Regions from separate parts of the Homo sapiens genome. Here region 2 is linked to region 1. Evidence: fine-mapped expression QTL. A gene starts in region 1. The other region holds a variant in brackets. All regions are shown on one strand. Distances are from middle to middle. Region 1 holds the start of ELF3-AS1 (ELF3 antisense RNA 1). Region 2 overlaps RNPEP (arginyl aminopeptidase).

Region 1 (11,003 bases):
CCGGCAGGCAGAGGTTGTAGCGAGCCAAGATTGTGCCACTGCACTCTAGCCTGGGTGACAGAGCGAGACCCTGTCTCGAAAAATAAAAAGAAGAAGAAGAAAAAAGAAAAGGCCAAGCATACTGGCTCACACCTGTAATCCCAGCACTTTGAGAGGCCGAGGCAGGAGAGTCATTTGAGGCCAGGAGTTTGAGACCGGCCTGGCCAACGTAGAGACCCTTGCCTCTATTTAAAAAAGAAAAAGAAAAAAAAAGTAAGTACATGATTTTAGGGCTGGACGGGATCTTAAGATGATCTAGTGTACTCCTGGACACAGGAGGAAACTGAGGCCCAGAGAAAAACAACCTAAGTGCTTCAACGAGGAGAAAGCCAGGCCCTGGGTGGGCACGGCTCCTGCCCCCTTTCCCACTCTCCAGGTGCCTTCCTGAGGACAAGCCTCACAGGCGATACAAGAAATGTTGCTGCTAGCTCAAGTGCACTGTGTCTGCTGTCTGCCAGGCTAATACTTTCTCCATGTTGTCATTTAATCCATGAAGTAGACCAACCCAGATGTTGTCCTCACTCTAAGGACTCAGCCCTGTTGCAAGAAGCCAAGTGGCAGCCAGAAAGAGGGCGGTGGGAGTGTGAGCGCCTGTCCCCATGTCCGGCTGTATCGTGAGGGTCCTGGCCGCCAGCTCACCTCATGGCCCGGCTCAGCTTCTCGTAGGTCATGTTGCTGTTCTTTTTCTTTTGGCCCCATAGTTGGGCCACAGCCTCGGAGCGCAGGAACTTGAAGACGCCTTCATGCCGATTCTCCCACTTCATGAGGCCCTCGTTGAGCTCCGGGTGGATGAGGATGTCCCGGATGAACTCCCACAGGTGGGTGCCTCTGGGCGCTGCAAGGCCAGCCTCCATCAGTTTGCCATCCAGGTGTCCCCTCTCACCCAAGGCCAGCCAGCCCTGCCCGCCCCAGTGCACTGCTGACTTGGCCACAGCATGCAGCAAGCCTCTCCAGAGACCCCGCAGTGCCCTCTGTGCGGGTACTGCAGTGACTGCTTTTCTCCTCAGCCCACCTAAGACCCACCAGCTGCCTCCTCACATTGAGGGTGTCCCAGAGGGCAGGACAGTGGCCAAGTGCAGAGAGAACTGGAGTCAGTGGACAGGACACTGGAGTCAGTGGACAGGACTCTGGTACCATGAGCCTCCCACTGGGAGCCTTATTTCCTCCTCCTCTCCAGGACCACCAAGCCAGGCTCTGCAATTAGGTGGTGACCGATACCATAGAGCCCCCAGCTTGTGCACAGCCTTACCAAAGGCCATGCGGAGGCCAGAGAAAACGGGAGAAGGGATACCTGCAACAACCCGCAGTGCCCCAGGAAGCCGCTCAGCCCGGCGCAGGGAGGACCCACGTGCCCCCGGAGCTCACCGTGCTTGCTCTTCTTGCCCTCGAGACAGTCCCAGTACTCTTTGCTCAGCTTTCGGGGCCGGCCTCGTTTCCGCTTCCCGTGCTTGGGATCCCCCTTCTTGCAGTCACGAAAACCATCTGTGGGGACGGTGGTGGAAGGTCAAGGAGGGGCAAGAGGGGAGTTAGGGAGAGTAGCCCCTCTACAGGAAAAGGCTGCAGGAAGAGCCGGGCCCCCTGTGCATTGCTAAATGGGACGCCCTCTTGGGGACCTCCCTCGACTCACCGCTGGGGAAGAGCTTGCCATCAGTGGGATCCAGGTCCACGTCACTTCCACCGGAGTCTGAGGAGTGGGAGCTCCGAGAAGCACCAGTCCCTGGGGGGCGGGGTCAGAGTAAGTCCCCTGCCGGCCCACCCTCTGCTCAACCACGCTGCTGGCTCTCAGGACACACTTCCCAGCCTGTTCCTGTTCCTGCCAGAAGGCCTGAGTTATGGTGCTGGGAGCCAGAGGGAACAAGGGACACTTCGGGGAAGGGAGGTTGTGGCCCAGAGAGAGCTCTCACCTGCGGTGGAGACGTCAGAGCTGCCAGGGGAGGGGGCTCCTGCGCCACAGCTGCCGGGGTGGTAGGGGCTGGCTTGCTGACCGTCGTCCAGCAGCTCCTGGGCAAAGGGGCTGCCCTGGTCTGGGAAGAGGAGGTGAGAACTCAGAGAGGGCTCAGGGGACCAGACCAGGACAGGTGATGCTGCCCATGGGTCTGATGACCTGCTGCAATTTTTCTAATTGAGGGAGGAAGAAGTCTGGGGAGGGGGTCATCTCTAGCACTCTGTGGAGGGGCAGGGATGGGACAAGACAGGCTGGGGAAGGAAGGAGAAAACGGGTTCTCACCAAAGGGCCCTGGGTCTAGGGCCTCCTGGAAGGCCATGCCATCCTTCTCCAGCAGCTCAATGATCCAACTGAGCTCATCAGAAGAGCTGGAAGCTGACAAGGAAGGAAGGAAGGGTCACACTCCCCTAATCCCTCCCTCAAGGGCTCTCTCTGGCTGTGCAGCTGGCCCAGAGCTCCAGGGCCTGCCTACGGCCACACTGAACTCGACTCAGCTCAACATGTGGAGCTGCTCCCCAGCCTCCAGGGGCCTGGACTCACTGAGGTCTCGCAGCTGGGCATGGAGTTGGTCCCCCAGAGGCCCAAAGACCAGACGCAGCTCCTCAAGGGCACAATTGCAGAGGGTGGCGCCATCCATGTCACATCGTGAGAAGTCAATGGCGCTTGCGTCGTACTTGTTCTTCTCCACTTGGTAGCTGATCCAGTCCAGAACCTGCGTCTTCGACCAGAACTGGGGCTGTTCCCCCAACCAGCTGGCCTTCTCTGCAAGGGCCAGGCAGGGAAACAGGCTCAGCTCAGGCCACCCAGCAGACCTTACAGCCCCATTTTTTTTTTTTTTTTTGAGATGGAGTCTCACTCCTGTCACCTAGGCTGGGGTGCAATGGCACAATCTCGGCTCACAGCAACCTCCACCTCCCAGGTTCAAGCGATACTCCTGCGTCAGCCTCCCCAGTAGCTGGGATTATAGGTGCCCACCACCACGCTGGGATAAATTTTTTTTTGTATTTTTAGTAGAGACGGGGTTTCACCATGTTGGCTAGGCTGGTCTCGAACTCTTGACCTCAGGTGATCCGCTCAGCTCAGCCTCCCAAAGTGCTGGGATTACAGGCGTGAGCCACCACTCCCAGCCCACACAGCCCCATTCCTGGAGCACACTGGGGATTCACACCTCAGCCCTTGGAGCCATCCCAAGAGTAGGGGCAGGAGGTAGCATTCACAACACCCTTGTCCTGGTATCTGACACCTCCCTCTGCCTGTCACAGCCCCACAACCCCCAGCACCTCAGTCACTAAGTCTCAGCCTCTAGCCCTGGAATTTGCCTAGAGACCCTCCTCCCTGCCTATTCCCCCATTTGTCTAACAGGCCCTTAGATGGATCTGTCTCCCACTCCGTGCCCCATCCCACCCCGCTGAGACCCACCTGTACCCTCCAATGACATCTGGGGGTTGCTCAGGGTCAGTACCAAGTCATCGGCCCCAAAGGTGGCAGCAGGGGGAACAGAGGCCAGGGTGGAGTCCTCCGAGCTGTACATCGCACTGAAGTAGTTGCTAAAAATGTTGCTAATCTCACAGGTTGCAGCCATGAGGCTACCTGTGGGTAGGGGGAGAGAGGATGAGGTTGGTGAGGGGACGAGGGTCCTCTCCTTACACTCCCAGCTACTCTGCTTTGCCCAACCCTGGGCAAGAGTAGCCCCCAGGGGCAGGAAGATCAGCAACTCTGCGGACACCGTCTCTTCAAGAAGGGCTCCAAGATCTCAGACCAGGGCAGGACCACAGGAGCCTCCAGCTGGGCTTCCCTCCTCAGATCTCTGGGGCCCTGGAGCCAGACTAGCGGCGTCATGGCCATTCTGCCTTCCCAGAGACAATCTCTCTCTGTTCTTTGACCCTCAGGACACCTACGCTCTTGCTCGGAGATCCTAGACTGGAGTGTGCAGGTTCAGAACTGCAAATCCTCTGGACCCCTCTGCAGTTTCCCAAGAGCTGGGCTAGGGAATGACAGGCGGGGAATCCTACCGGAGTGGCGGAGTCCGGCTGTGGCAGGCAGGCCGGCAGGCGGGAGAGAAATCCAGTTCCGCCAGGTAGCGCTGAGGTATCTGGCCGCTGCGCTCCCCTACCCGGCTCTAAATAGAGCCTGGAGGGAGCTCCTCCCTGAGCTCAGGGCTTTATAGTGTGTCCCCTGCAGTAACCTGAGCTGGTGTCTCATTGGATGGAGGGGATTTCCTGGCCTTTAGACTGGGCTCCTGGCCCCAGGTGATTTGCATATTCAGTGCCACTTGGCCCGGATCTTAGCAGGCAGTGCTGGGAAATCAGGCCCGGCTGGTTTAATGATTGTCAGAGTCTGTCATCCCGCACCCTCTGGGGTTGGGCACGGGGCACTGGCCTGGGCAGGTGGCGGGAACGTTGCTGGGGTGGGCATCTGTGCTTTCGGCTGCCCTCTGGCCCAGGAAATTCCTCCCAGGGGCCAGGCCAGAGATGGGCCAGGCAGGGGGAGGGCAAGTGAGGGAACATGAACCCCTGGCTGACCTGAGTCAGAAAGCTGCTGGCCCCTAAATTCCAGAGATTCAGCAACAAAGAGGCCTAGTAGGGAGAGGAGTTACTAGGTTTAGGGGTTTTTCCCAGAACACCCAGGACTCTGGCCAGGGGCTGGAAGGTGCTCCAGGCTCAATGCTGGGCAATACTCATGGATTAATTGGTGCTGGCTGGGCCTGCCAGCCTAGTCGTGGCCCCAGGGTCCCCACTAAAGGGCTCCTTCTCCAGCGCCCACTCTGTTGGCAAGGTCTTCACTACCATCACCTGCCTGGACTCCATCCAAGCATCAGGGTTGCTGCAGTCGCTCCTGAAGAGACCCGGCTCTGCTTGAAAGTTCTTCCCTCAGCGCCTGCTGGAGCCCTCCCTGCCGGAGTTGCCAGAATCCACACGGGTAAGTTCATCCCTGCTCTCTGGACCCCATCTAATCTCTGGTTCACTCGGCCCAGTTTTCCAGTACCTTCTGCTGCCCTCTAGTGGTCAGAAGCCTGACTACCTGGGTCACGTCATTCAAAGAAGAGGGAATGCATAGTATTAATATATTTACCAAGCACTTTTCAACATATTCTCTCATTTAATCCTCACACCAAAAAAGTCCTGTAAGGAATGCATGGTTATTCCCATTTTATAGACATGAAAGTTGCAGTGTGGAGGGTTCCCTTAGAATGGCTTGCCCAGGCCACACAGAGTTGGTGAAGGGGTGGAGCTGAGATTCACATCCAGGTATGCAGGTGTGTTGTACACAAAACCCTCGCTCTTTCCCTGCACAGGATTCAATGTCTTCGGGCTTCAGAGTCTTCCCATCCAGCTCCATGGCCAGAGCCCTTGCCTTCCCTGTGGGCAGAGTCCCCCATGTCTGTGGTTGTCTCTATGGACTCAGCCCGAAACACAATGGATAGTGTCTTATAGACCCTTCTTGAGACCCTGAATGGGGTAATACAGGTGGTTGAGGCAGGAGACTTGTAGCCAGCATCTGCAACTGTGTGATCTTGGATGAGACCCTTGGAGTCTGTGCTTGTTTCCCCATCTATAAAAAATGAGGTTGTCTGAATTTAATAATCCCTAAGATCTCTTCCAGATCTAGTATTTTGTTTATTTTGTTTTGAGGTGGAGTCTCGCTCTGTCGCCCAGGTTGGAGTGCAGTGGCGTGATCTCTGCTCACTGCAACCTCTGACTCCTGGGTTCAAGCGATTCTCCTGCCTCAGCTTTCCGAGTAGCTGGGATTACAGGCGCCCGCTGCCATGCCCGGCTTTCTGTATTTTTAGTAGAGACGGGGTTTCACCATGTTAGCCAGGATGGACTCGATCTCCTGACCTCATGATCTGCCTGCCTCAGCCTCCCAAAGTGCTGGGATTACAGGCATGAGCTACTGCGCCCAGCCCATATCTAGATTTTTATGCATTTGAAATGTAGGATCCGGTGGCTCACACCTGTAATCACTGCGTCTCAAAAAAAAAAAAACAAAAACAAAAAAATGTAGGATCTGTGTGACCCCCCTCCATTAATGCACAACTTGGGGAGTTCCTGGCCACCCTCAGCCAGGGTGGGTGAAACGGTTACTCAAACAAAAGGTGACTCCACCTTCTACAGATACTTCTTTCTTTAACTCTATAGCCTGAGGACTAAGAAAGTCCTGCGCAGAGAATCTGCTTCTTACCTTACCTTCTTCCTCTCTGAAGCTCCCAGGTGCCTAGGAGAGAGTTAATGTCCAGGATCCCCCCGCCCCCCCGCCCCCGCACTGGGCCAGTGCAGGCAGGAGAGCCTGGGGCTCAGTAGGATTTTCCCCAGCCCTTCAGGGGGCCTCCCCCAAGGAGCCTGAGGCAGGCACACCCTCCACCCAGTCCCTCACCCAGGAATGTGGGAGAACCGGCTTCTAGCCCCAGGGCTGCTCACGTGCTCCCTGCCCTGAAGAGCATCTGGCTGGGGCTCCCGGGATGGCGGGGTGAACAGGAGGATGTACGAGAAAAATGAGAAGGCTGTCAGCTCCCTTGCCTTCTTGGGGCTTCCTCACCGCTGACATGGAGCTGAGATAAGGAATCCCTACAGGCTGGCAGCTTGAGATAAGTGAGAAAGACTTGGATTTGAGGTCAGTGCCTTGGAGGCATGGGGATGGGGGTGGGGAGAAGGTTCCAGGATAGTGGTGAAGAGAGCTATGGAGCAGGATGCCAGGGGCTTCCCAGTATTCTGTGATGGCAAAAACAACCCACTGGCCTCCCCTCTCCCCACAGAGCTTGCCCACACGGCAGCACAGCCTCATCTTTGGGATGGGAGAATGTCCTACAAAAGGACAGGCACATCCAGTAGTCCTGTCAGGTACCAAGGTGGTGAGTGAGGCAGGCTGCACAGCTCAGGATACCCACGCTATGTAATGGGAGACCCCACAAAGTTAGTGGAGTCACAGCACGGCTGTTAGAGGAAGGGCTTCCAGCCTTTCCTTGCACTGACCCTTCATGATTACTGGGCCTATTGGTGCTATAGGTTTTTGTACAGAGCAAGGAAAGATAGCTACTGATAAGCTAGATAAAAGGTTGGGGAGAGGGGGAGACAACTGGATAGCCCTAAAATAGTCCTTGCCAATAACATATTGCCAGGAACAGTCCTGAAAGAGCCACGGAAGCAGTTTGCTGTCAAAATGCCAGTGCCTGGAGAAGCTCTTCCGATACCGGGCCTCCAGATCCCTCACCTATGACCCACATCACCCTCTCTGATGGTGGAGCTGTGTGCCACGGGGCAGAGGCCTCTCCAGTCTACCACTTGGTCACCACTAGTCCCTTGCTCTTGCTGAGTGAAAGCAAATCGACTCATTCCCAACCCTTGTGCAGGGGAGGGAGGAAGCCTGTTCGATAACCTAAATCCGAGGACAGAGCAGAGCTGCGAACAAAGCCTGTTTCAGGGGTGCCCTGTATTTAAGAAAGGCAAATGAAACACACTAAATATTTCTTCCAACCCTCCCCTCATCCCACTCCCAAACCCAGATTGCTAACTGTTTAGGTCCCCATGTTGAGGCCAGGAAATCAGAATTTAGTGCTAAGTTCTAAAGACTTTACTGATTACCATTCAAATAGTTATCTAGGATCAAAGACAGGTGAGGCCCAGTGAAGCCTTGGGCATGGGCAGAAGGGTAGATAAAAAGTCATAAGACACTTTATTTTTATTTTTGAGACAGGGTCTCACTCTGTCACTCAGGCTGGAGTTCAGTGGCACAATCAAGACTCACTGTGGCCTTGACCTCTTGGGCTCAAGTGATCCTCCTGCCTCAGCCTCCTGAGTAGCTGAAACCACAGGAATGCACCACCACGCCCAGCTTTTTTTTTTTTTTTTTGAGAAGTCTTACTCTGTCACCCAGGCTGGAGTGCAGTGGCATGATCTCAGTTTACTGCAACCTCCACCTCCCAGGTTCAAGTGTTTCTCCTGCTTCAGCCTCCCAAGTAACTGGAACTACAGGTGTGAGCCACCATGCCTGGCTAATTTTTGCATCTATCTTTTTTTTCAGTAGAGATGGGGTTTCACCATGTTGGCCATGCTGGTCTCAAACTTCTGACCTCAAGTGATTTGCCTGCCTCAGCCTCCCAAAGTGTTGAGATTACAGGCGTGAGCCACCACGCCTGGCTTTTTTTTTTTTTTTTTTTTTTTTTTGGTAGAGATGAAGTCCTGCTATGTTGGCCAGGGTGGTCTCAAACTCCTGGGCTCAAGCGATCCTCTCGCCTCAGCCTCCCAAAGTGCTGGGATTACAGGCATGAGCCACCGTGCCCAGCCCATTTTTTTTTCTTAGTGATGGAAAAGATAATGGGAATGCTGCTGCAGATAGAGAATTCAGCTGCTTCACGGAGAACTGGAATGCTATTCCTTTTTCATTTTCCTGCACCAGCTGTGCCATTTTGCCATATTTTTTTTCATATGCATGTGTAGGACACCCACCTCCTTCACCCTGGCTGTTCCCTGAGGACAGGAAAATACTGTCATTCTCTGGGCCTCCCCCAGTGACCTTTCCTGAACAAACACAGTGAGGACCTCTGGTGGAAGAAATTTAATAGTCACTCAATCCGTAACTTAATTTTTGCTTGAAAACTTTATTAAAATAAGGATTAAACCTGAAAAAAGAACAATCAGAATGCCAGCCCTTTGCATAAAATCAGCAAGAAAAAGGACAGAAAGAGAAAAAAGAAGAGCATCAGTCCTCTCCACTTCTTCCCAGAGACTTAGGTGGGGAGGAGAATACCCGCTGCCCTGCAGTGCCTGCAGCCTGTAGCGGGGAGAGCTGTGGGCAGGTTCTCTGTCTCGGGGCTCAGTGGGCTATAGAGAAGTAAGTTCCCACCAGAGCAGAGGCCCAAGAGTCACAGATACCTAAGCTAGAGAATAGATTATCCTGAGGGGATATAAACTCCAGGAAGTTGATCAGGGAACAGGAATTTGGGAACAAACAATTATTCTGAAAGCCTGGAGAGCCTGAAGAGGCAGGGGCCATGCACACGAGCCTCTAACTGCCCTTGGGTGCCACGATCTGCTGGACATAGTTGACAACATTGCTGTGGAGCTGGGAGGCGGTGGATGCAAAAGTCTCCTTGGCGAGGGTCTGGGCCACCTCACTGCCACCCATCATTGCGTGGTACAGCGGAAGTGTATACTTCTGCTTCCCCTGCAAGAAACACACATACACATGCCTAAGAAGCTTGCCTGGTGGATCTGTCCAGCCCTGCTGCCCCCAGTGCCAGTCTAACAGCAGCCATGGCTAGGTGCTAAAAGGGATGTGGGCATCACAGCTGGAATGAGGAGCTTCTCATCAGAAGTGCTCTAATTCAGGCATCTTCTTGGGCGCCAGAGATCCATGGAGATGGATCTCAATACGCGTCCCAATCCATACTAACATGGGGACGTCTACAGTCAACAAAATGAATGAGTTGGGTGGACACAATGGGATTCCAGACTTCTGGAAAGGTGTAGGTGGTGAGCCACCACGTGAATAGCAGATATCAGCAGCTGCGGCACATAAAGCTCACAGCCGCATACGGTCCAGCTGCAGTCAAGCAAAGGAAAACCCACAGGTCAACCCACAGGTCAAATTCACACAAATATAAGCCAGCGACATCACAAGTTCCTAAAATCCAGAGCCTTGAGGAAGCCATCAAAGGGCTCAGAATATCCCCGAACAGGCAGGCAGCCCTGACTTTATGCAGAGCAATGCTTCGTCTCCGGTCCAGCCCCTCCCTGCTCCGGAATCTGATGACATTCAGTTCATCCTGAGAGCCCGGGGCCTTTCCCCAACAGGGCAACTTTCACATAGTGACAGAGGGTCTGGCTGCTGTCCCGATCATGCCCAAGTCACAGGGCAGCAGGGACCTATCCTCCAAGCCTTTGTTCCTCTTGCTCCGCCTCTGGCCCCTTTCCCTCTTGTGTTTCCCACATGACACTGTCACCCTCTTTCCCGCCTCTGCGTTGGCTCTGGCCAGCTTTTTTCCCTGGGGTCTCACCAGCTGAATTGCAGAAAGCACTGCAAGCCTGCAGGCCTCCTCTTGTCCCTAGGGCAATGCCTTCAAAGCCACACTAGTAAAGAGGCTGAGTGGTAGGGTCCTCAGGTCATTTGCCCCTCCCTCTGTGCCTCAGATGAGTCCTAGATGAGCCCTGCCCACATGATTACTTCACATATGGCCGAGTGGGTCCCAGTGTGCTTTCGGGAACAGCGAGGCAGGGGTCACCCACCTGGTTATGCAGGAACTCCTTCACTTTCCAGAAATCTTCCTGGTGGTCGTTCTTAAGGACGATTTGGCCCCATCGCAGCCGGAGCTCTGCATTCCGGGCATTTGAGATACTTGGGTATGTGTCTCCAAGTTTTTTCACATTCCCTGGAGAAGAGAAAGAAATGGTTTGTGGCTGGTCACGGTGGGTCACACCTGTAATACTAGAATTTTGGGAGGCTGAGGTGGGCGGATCACTTGAGGTCAGGAATGTGAGACCAGCCTGGCCAATATGGCGAAACCCCATCTCTACTAAAAATACCAAACAAAACTGGCCGGGTGTGGTGGCGCACGCCTGTAATCCCAGCTACTTGGAGGCTGAGGTGCTAGAATCAAGAATCACTTGAACTCAGAAGGTGGAGGTTGCTGTGAGCCAATAGCACCACGGCACTCCAGCCTGGTCGACAGAGCAAGATTAAAGCAGACATATTCCCCCAATATCTGTCCCATTTTTTCTCCTACCACTCATCTGCTAAAAGTCATCTTGGCTCTAACTTTTTTTTAACCCCTTGGTGAATATTATGTTGACTGAGCAGCCACAAAGCATTAGAGGTTGAGAGCTCTGGATGACTGGGTTCTGTGCGAACTGTTTGTACCTCAAGTTCATTCTGTCACCTGGGTATTAACATCACACCGCCTACTTCCCAGAGGAGTTGTGGGAATTAAATGACTTAATAGACACAAAAGCCTTACAAGAGTCGCCTGCAGGAGCTTCGGACTTGAGCAATGCCAGGCTTTGTGACTTTGTCCTTGAGGTGCTTG
Region 2 (8,877 bases), 22 kb after region 1:
ATCATGGGACGGCAGTCAGTATCTTCAAGGAATTACTTTGTGAATTGTTCTACCACCACCTTGGATGTCAAAATTACCACAGTCCTTCAGCCCAGTGGACTTCAGCTTGTTACAACTAGAAGGTTTAAGACAGTCATCCAAGATACCTCCACCAGGACACACATTTCTGTCAAAATAAATCAGGATGCTCTCAGTCAAGCTGCAATCTCACTACCTGTAGTATATTGCAAAGAGCACTGGATTTGCAATGGAAATACCTGAATTTTAATTCCAGTTTTGCCAACTAGTGGTCCTGCACAAGCCACTCACCACAGCCTTGGTTTGCTTATTTTTAAAATGTAGAAAGTATCATCCTCATGGAGTCTGTGTAAGGATTAGAAGAGATTATACATAAAAGGGCCTACTGGGATATACCCATAATTCCCCTCTGCCCAGGATTTTCCTCTTGCAGTAACAGGGACTGGGATAGGTGGCATACCTTGCCAGAAGACCCTCCGATTTAATAAACCCCCACGGCCCGGCGTGGTGGCTCATGCCTGTAATCGAGCACTTTGGGAGGCCGAGGTGGATGGATCACGAGGTCAGGAGTTCAAGACTAGCCTGGCCAACATAGTGAAACCCTGTCTCTATTAAAAATATGAAAATTAGCCAGAAATGGTGGCACACACCTGTAGTCCCAGCTACTTGGGAGGCTGAGGCAGGAGAATCACTTGAACCCAGGAGGCGGAGGTTGTGGTGAGCCAAGATCGCGCCACTGCACTCCAGCCTGGGCAACAGAGCAAGACGCCATCTCAAAAATAATAAATAAATAACCCCCCACAAGACCCTACGATGTGACCCAGGAGGCAAGAACTGTCCATTTAATCACGGAAGGAATAAGGCATTACCACCAGTTAAGTGGATTCTGTCACCTAGTTCGATATACCATGTTGTCATTTTATTACAGGCAGTATAAAAAGAAATCATTATCACTCAGTATCTTTAGAATCTATTGTTCTCTCATTTCCCATTAATAGTTCATACTCTTACAAGTAGAACCTTAGTAAGGGTATTCTTGGAAACGACGTTCCTTTACTTATCTACTTGCTTGTCTATTGCAAAGATGACATCCTTTTGGTTATTTCCCGCCCTGCCTATTAGGAAGACAGCCCTTCGTAAGAGGAGGGCACTTTGTCTTTCCAGACTGGTATTGTTTTGAATGTGTGCGCTGGGAGCAGATGCCAATGGAATCCCATTTATTATTCCAACTGATAACCAGAAACTAAGACTCATGATACCAGCAGTGCCACTGAGCCCAGTTATGAAGTCTGAGGCTCGTAACTAATGTTGTCAAGGACACCACTGCCTCTAGGAACTGGGAGCAGGGCCAGAGATAAAGAACAGCAACAGTGCCAGGAAAAGGTCACGGCTTCACCGTCCAGCCTGTGATGCTCCCACATTGGGACTAAGCTATGGTGGAGGTAATATGAGAGCCAGGAAAAACCTATACTCCTGGTCAAACCTCTTTTATCAGGAAACCTTACAAAATCCCTTTTTATCTTCACAAGATCCATGTAACTTCACGGAGGCATTGCTCTCACCGTAGGCTTAGACTCATGCATCTGCTGCAGATAGGAAGGAGAGTCCACTTCCCTCTTCGAGGGAAATGATACCAAAGTTGTTATTTCCAGGAACTACGTGCAAAAGAAAATGGGGAAGATTTGGTACAAAGATAGGAAAGTGGATATAGCTGCTAGAAGGGCATTTAGAACTTAAAGATATTAATAAAGATCCATTTCCCAGGCCGGGCATGATGGCTCATGCCTGTAATCCCAGCACTTTGGGAGGCCAAGGCGGGTGAATCACCTGAGGTCAGGAGTTCAAGAGCAGCCTGGCCAACATGGTGAAACCCCGTCTCTACGAAAAATACAAAAATTAGCCGAGCGTGGTGGGGCATGCCTGCAGTCCCAGTTACTTGGGAGGCTGGGGCAGGAGAATCGCTTGAACCCAGGAGGCAGAGGTTGCAGTGAGCCAAGATCGCACCATTGCACTCCAGTCCAGCCTGGGCAACACAGCAAGACTCCATCTCAAAAAAAAAAAAAAATCCATTTCCCAAAACTGCAGCCTAAATTCCAACATCCCTCTGTAAGGCAGCCCAGGACAGCGCTACTGCTAGCAGGGATGATGATCTCATTCCAGGCAGCAGGATTAGAACTGGAGAGAGGGAGTGAGAAAGGCAGGGAGAAAAAGAGCACTTCCTCCAGCTGTGCTCATGCTGCATGAGCTGCAGAAAGGCTCTGGACTCAGACAGAGGATCCAAGACTGCCCAAGAACCCCCCCAGCAGGTCCACTGGTCAGAGTCCTCCTCACCTCTGAGGCCAATCCAACCTTGCCTGTGGGGTCTTTGTCTCCTACCTGGGTCCAACTTCAGCCGAAACCAGATCTCCGATGGCCAAAGCTATCAGATAGGAGGGGATGGGCTGACACATCTGGAAGAAGAACTTATTTGGACCTCTCTTCTCCCAGGTGCTAGCACTCATCACAGCTGTGAAGCCATCTGGGACCTGACAACAGAGAAAGCTTAGGAGATTTTACCTGGAGAGAGTTTCCTTTTGATTAGTTTGAATAAGAGCATGACCGGCCACCTGTGTGTGATGATAATGGCCTGGAGTCTATCTTGGAGAACACAAAGGTTTCAAGAAACTAAATCTGTGCTCAACTGATGGGATTTAGAGGAAGGCTACATACAACTTCAGTAGGTGGAAGAATTTAAAAGTAAGCAATTTTTCAGAAGTACCACTGAATGGATATAATAATTTACCACTGAAACGTGACCTGATTGATAGATCTGAAATCATTTCTTCATCCCAAGGGCAGGTGCACCTAACCTTAGTCTCCTTACCTCAATAAGAGCTGAATACTTGTATTTAACAGCAGGCGTGTCGAAGCAAGGGAAGAAGGCCCGGTTTAGGACAGCCTGGCCCTGGGTGTACACGAAGGGCTTCTTCTTTCCTGCTGTCTGCTCGGGAGCCAACCAGCAAACCTAAGCGAAAAGAAGAACATTTCAGAACTGACATCTCCCACACGAGCTCAGTCTGGCCAGAGAAGTGAGCTGGCTGGAATGAGAGAATTTTAGGTAATCCTTAAAACCTTTCCGCCAGCCAGTCTGGTTTGAACTAGAAAGCTCTCTCCTCTGTGTATTTAGTTCATCCTGGAATCCATGCCAAAGTATGACATCCACTTCACAGGGCAGAGCCACCAGAAAGGGTCCATTCCTCACTGCATCCCATGGGTCATCTCAGAGACCTTGGACCGAGCCTCTGATCTTGTCATCTGTACCCTATCTGTGTCCTTTTCACTGTAGTAGTTTCTCATCAAACAAAAAACTACTGAAGCAACTGCATTTGGACTTGTGATAAGACACAGAAAAGCAGAACTCAACTGGGAGTCAGTGATTAATATGTTTTTTTTTTTTTTTTTTTTTTTTTTGAGACAGAGTATCGCTCTGTCGCCCAGGCTGGAGTACAGTGGTGCAATCTCGGCTCACTGCAACCTCGACCTCCCAGGTTCAAGCAATTCTCATGCCTCAGCCTCCCAAGTAGCTGGGACCACAGGCGCGTGCACCACCAAGTCCAGCTAATTTTTGTATTGTAAAGATAGGGTTTCACCATGTTGGCCAGGCTGGTCTCCAACTCCTGGCCTCAAGCAACCCGCCCACCTCAGTCTCCCAAAGTGCTGGGAATACAGGCATAAGCCATCATGCTCAGCCTAATATACATTCTCTTTTCTTTTCTTTTTTTTTTTTCGAGATAGAGTTTCACTCTTGTCGCCCAGGCTGGAGTGCAATGGTGTGATCTCAGCTCACTGCAGTCTCCGCCTCCTGGGTTCAAGCGAGTCTCCTGCCTCAGCCTCCCAAGTAGCTGGGATTATAGGCATGCACCACCACATCCGACTAATTTTGTATTTTTAGTAGAGACGGGGTTTCATCATGTTGGTCAGGCTGGTCTTGAACTCCTGACCTCAGGTGATCTGCCCGCCTCAGCTTCCCAAAGTGCTGGGATTACAGGCATGAGCCACTGCACCTGGCCTAATATGTGTTTTCTGTTCCTAAAATTTACCTTTTCAGAAGAAAGGTATTTTATATAATAGGCACTGGTTATATGATTCTTTATCTGTGTTCTGTTAGCTCTTAAACAAAGGGCAAATCTGGGTTGGGTGCAGTGGCTCACGCCTGTAATCCCAGCACTTTGGGAGTCCGACGCAGGTGGATCACTTGAGGTCAGGCGTTCGTGACCTGCCTGGATAACATGGTAAAACCCTGTTGCTACTAAAAATACAAAAATTAGCCGGGTGTGATGGCATGCACCTGTAATTCTAGCTACTCAGGAGGCTGAGGCAGGAGAATTGCTTGAACCCAGGAGGCAGATGTTGCAGTGAGCTGAGATCATGCCACTGCACTCCAGCCTGGGTGACAGAGCGAGACTCTGCCTCAAAAAAAAAAAAAAAAAAAAAAAAAAAGTAAAATCTGAATGATTTATCACAAAACCCAGTTTTTGCCTATAGCAAACAGCCATTCATTTACCTGGAAGAGGGGCAGGATGGAGCATAGGTCAGTAACAAATAGCATTTAGAATTTAGAAATGGATTCGATTACTCCAGGATGATTTCATAGGGGAAGAAAACTTTCTGGCTGGACCTTCAAAGACACGCAGGATTGAGATGGCTGGAAAGGAAGGGAGGAGACATTCACAAGGAGACGAGCAGCAACATGAGGAGAGGCATAAACAGATGCAGGCTCCAGATGCAGAGTTGGGGAGGCAGGCCTGGGCAAGTCTAATGAAGGGTTCTGAACACAGCAGTGTCTGAGACCTATTTTAAGAGGCATAAGGAAGCTACGTTGGGATGCTGGGTTTGAGTTTTTGTGTGTGAAAAATTTAATTAGTCTCCTTATAACAGGTACAGTGCAGTATAGAAAGGGATGAGAGAATAACTTCACAGTGGAGAAAGCTGATAATCACTGCTTCAGCCAGGGGACCGAGGTTAACGCTGACAGTCATAAATCATGTGGATACTATGCGCCCTCAATACCTGATGAAAATGGCACTTTGGCTGGGCGCAGTGGCTCACACCTGTAATCCCAGCACTTTGGGAGGCCGAGGCTGGTGGATCACCTGAGGTCGGGAGTTCAAGACCAGCCTGGCCAACACAGTGAAACCCTGTGTCTACTAAAAATACAAAAATTAACCAGGGTGGTGGCATATGCCTATAGTCCCAGCTACTTCGGAGGCTGAGGGAGGAGAATCGCTTGAACCAGGGAGGCGGAGGTTGCAGTGAGCCGAGATCACACCACTGCAGTCCAGCCTGGGTAACAAGAGTGAAACTCCATTTCAAGAAAAAAAAAAAAAAAAAAGAAAGAAAATGGCACTTTACCTCTGTGAATTGCCCCTCAAAACCCATAAT[C/T]CCAATCTAATCATGAGAAAACATCAGATAAATTCCAATACAGGGTCATCCTACGCTATACCTGGCCAACACTCCTCAAAACTGTCAAGGTTGGCTGGGCTCAGTGGCTCACACCTGTAATGCCAGCACTTCGGGAGGTCAAGGCAGGAGGATCGCTTGAGGCCAGGAGTTTGAGACCAGCCTGGGCAACATAGGGGGACCCTGTCTCTACAGAAAAAATAAAAATAAAAAAATAAAAAACAAAAAACTGGCTGGGAGCAGTGGCTCATGCCTGTAATTCTAGCACTTTCTTTGGGAGGCCAAGATGGGAGAATTGTTTGTTTGAGCCCAAGCGTTTGAGACAAGCCTGGATAACACAGTGAGACCTCATCTCTACAAATAATAAATTCAAAAAATTAGCTGGGCGCAGTTGTATGCGCCTGTAGTCCCAGCTACTTGGGCTGAGGCAGGAGGATCACTTGAACCAGGGGGATCAAGGCTGCAGTGAGCCATGATTGTGCCACTCACTGCACTACGGCCTGGATGACAGAGCAAGACCCTGTCTCAAAAAACAAACAAACTGTCAAAGTTATATCAAAAACAAGGAAAGTTTGAGAAACTGTCACAGTCCCAAGAGGATACATGACAGCTAAATATAATGTGGAATTCTGGATGGCTTCCTGGAACAGAAAAAGACATTAAGTAAAAACTAAGGGAATCTGAAAAAACTATGGACTCCAGTATCGGTACTGGTTTATTAATTATAACAAATATATTATTATACTAATGTAAAATGATTCAATCTTGGTTAATAATATATCAGCATTGTTTAATTGTAACAAATGTGTCATACTAATGCAAAATGGTAGCAAGAGGGGAATCTGTGTGTATATGTGTATGTAGGAGGTACTGAACTGTATATGGGAACTCTCTGAACTGGCTGCTCAATTAAGCCAGGCATGTTGGCTCATGCTTGTAGTCCCAGCACTTTGGGATGCCAAAGCGGGCAGATGGCTTGAACCCAGGAGTTCAAGACCAGCGTGGGCAACATGGCAAAACCCCATCTCTACAAAAAATAACAAAAATTAGCCAAGTGTGGAGGTGGCAGGTCTGTGGTTGGTCCCAGCTACCCCAGCTACTCAGGAGGCTAAGGTGGGAGGATCACTTGAGCCAGGGAGGTCAAGGCTGCAGTGAGCTGAGATGGTGCCACTATACCAGTCAATAAGAATTGATCAATTGACTGATCATTGAATGCCATCAGTCAGTGATGTTTTTACTGATCAGCTAGGAAATGAGTATTTTTTTTTTTTTTTTTTAGATGGAGCCTCGCTGTGTCACCCAGGCTGGAATGCAATGGCATGATCTCAGCTCACTGCAACCTCTGTGTCCCAGATTCAAGCGATCCTCCTGCCTCAGGCTCCCAGGTAGCTGGGTTTACAGGTGTGAGCCACCACAACCAGCTAATTTTTGTATTTTTAGTGGAGGTAGGGTTTCACCATGTTGGCCAGGCTGGTCTCAAACTCCTGACCTCAGGTGATCTGCCAGCCCTGGCCTCCCAAAGTGCTGGGATTACAGATGTGAGCCACCACACCCAGCCTGGAAACGAGATTTTTAAAAAGAACAATGTAGGGAGCTTTTTGATCCCTTCTCAAAAAAAAAAAAAAAAAAAAAAAAAAAAAAAAAAAAGAAAGAAATACAAAAGTTAGCAGTAAGAGCTAACACAGCTTACTTACCATGTACCACGCACCATATTAACCACTTATGGAAAGACAACTCATTTAACCTATGTCAAGCACTTAGACTAGTGCCTGGCTCATCTTATTAAATATTAGCCATCATCCCCCCTCCACCAAAATTGCTTACTCATCATCTTTGCTTTTTTGTTGTTGTTGTTAAAACAGGGTCGCACTCTGTTGCTCAGGCTGGAGTGCAGTGGTGTTATCAGGCTGTGAAAGGAAAATCTCTTGGGCCCCCAAAATCACTAAAGAAAACTCAACCTGGGAACCGCTTAGGGCACACCTGCCTCCCATTCTATTCAAAGCCACTACTCTGCTCACTGAGATGGATGCATATCTGATTTGCTTCCTTTGGAAAGGCTCATCAGAAACTCAAAAGAATGTAACCATTTGTGTATCACCTATCTGTGATCCGGAAGCCGCTTCAAGTCTTCCTGCCTTTGCTGCAAGTTGTCCCACCTTTTCAGACCCAACCAATGTACTTCTTACATATACTGACTGATGTATCATGTCTCCCTAATGTATAAAACCAAGCTGTGGGCCGGGCGCAGTGGCTCACGCCTGTAATCCCAGCACTTTGGGAGGCCGCCGAGGCAGGCGGATCACGAGGTCAGGAGTTCGAGACCAGCCTGACCAAAATGGTGAAATTTTGTCTCTACTAAACAATACAAAAATTAGCCGGGTGTGGTGGCGCACGCCTGTAGTCCCAGCTACTAGGGAGGGTGAGGTACGAGAATCGCTCGAACCCACGACGCAGAGGTTGCAGTGAGCCGAGATCTTGCCACTGCACTCCAGCCTGGACGAGAGTGAGACTCTGCCTCAAATAAATAAATAAAAGATTAAACTGTAAGCAAGCAGTTTACTATGAAACTTGCAACCAACTCTACCTGAGAGATAACTGGCAGCCACAGCCTAAGGACTCTCCAGGAAGGATTTTCTGACTCTTACAGACATAAGCCACATAACTCCATCCTCTTATTTCCAATATTTGCCCCGTCCCGAAAAAAAATTAAAGAGTTAACCAACAGTGAGAAGGCCAAATTATTATAATGCTTATAGCACCCTAATTCCAGTTCTCACTTTTACTCAAATTCTTTCGTTAATCAAATCCAGGACTTCACAGGAGGAAACAAAAACAAAGATAAGAGCTTTAACCGTGGAACTAGAAGGCAACACAGAACAAAGAGCTAGATCAACATCTGGCTAATTCTAGAGCCACCATAAAGCAGAGATAAGGTGGCTGATAATCAGGTACCTCGGCCCAAAAGTCCAAGAGGGCACTAAGTGAAGTGCATGAACAACAGGTCATCTAGAAAGCCACGGAAAATGTTAGAAACGGCAGTGTGCGATGAGCGGGAATGCGGCGCAATCTGGACAAGCCTCCAGGGCCAGGGAGGAGACGCGGAAGGACGGAAAGGGTGAAGGATGCACCGCCCAGTGGCTGGAGGAAGTCCAGAAGGAAACCAGGCAGCCCGGGAGGAAAAGAGGAAGCAAGGGGAGGAGGCCTAGAGGCGGCGCGCGGGGAGTAGGCCCCTCTAGGGACGCTCTGGAAGGGTCCTCCCTGTCCCTCCTCCCGGGTGGGGTAGGTGAGGGTGCAGGGCGGCTGGGGGCCGGAAGGGCAGGCAGGCAGCGGCGGGCGCAGTCTGGGGCGCACTCACCCCGGGTCCCTCCCCGACGCGGTAGGTGAGCAGCACCTGGAGGCGCTCGGCGGCGCGGCAGGGCT

Evidence for each region.
Region 2: its variant is fine-mapped to the expression of ELF3-AS1 in monocytes after Pam3CSK4 (Quach 2016, PIP 0.95).

The regions. Positions count from the first base shown.
Region 1 is chr1:202,003,700-202,014,702 of GRCh38, reverse strand. ELF3-AS1 (ELF3 antisense RNA 1) reads left to right here and starts at 4,350. Exons shown (of 2, transcript NR_146472.1): 1 at 4,350-4,903. It overlaps RNPEP (arginyl aminopeptidase), which reads right to left. Exons shown (of 11, transcript NM_020216.4): 10 at 10,207-10,349; 11 at 8,560-9,145. The coding sequence ends at 8,987. ELF3 (E74 like ETS transcription factor 3) reads right to left here and starts at 4,116. Exons shown (of 9, transcript NM_004433.5): 1 at 3,997-4,116; 2 at 3,404-3,574; 3 at 2,525-2,746; 4 at 2,267-2,359; 5 at 1,944-2,063; 6 at 1,667-1,756; 7 at 1,405-1,521; 8 at 679-874. The coding sequence starts at 3,566. RefSeq lists enhancers at 273-1,472, 2,282-3,216, 3,217-4,150, 5,877-6,518, 9,729-10,371.
Region 2 is chr1:201,983,049-201,991,925 of GRCh38, reverse strand. It overlaps RNPEP (arginyl aminopeptidase), which reads right to left. Exons shown (of 11, transcript NM_020216.4): 1 at 8,813-8,877; 2 at 2,882-3,022; 3 at 2,395-2,543. Among named protein-coding and RNA genes, the nearest start is that of RNPEP, 4.8 kb to the right of the region's middle. RefSeq lists an enhancer at 1-2,227 and silencers at 5,802-5,976, 8,693-8,877. The variant C/T (reference allele first, on the strand shown) is at 5,440.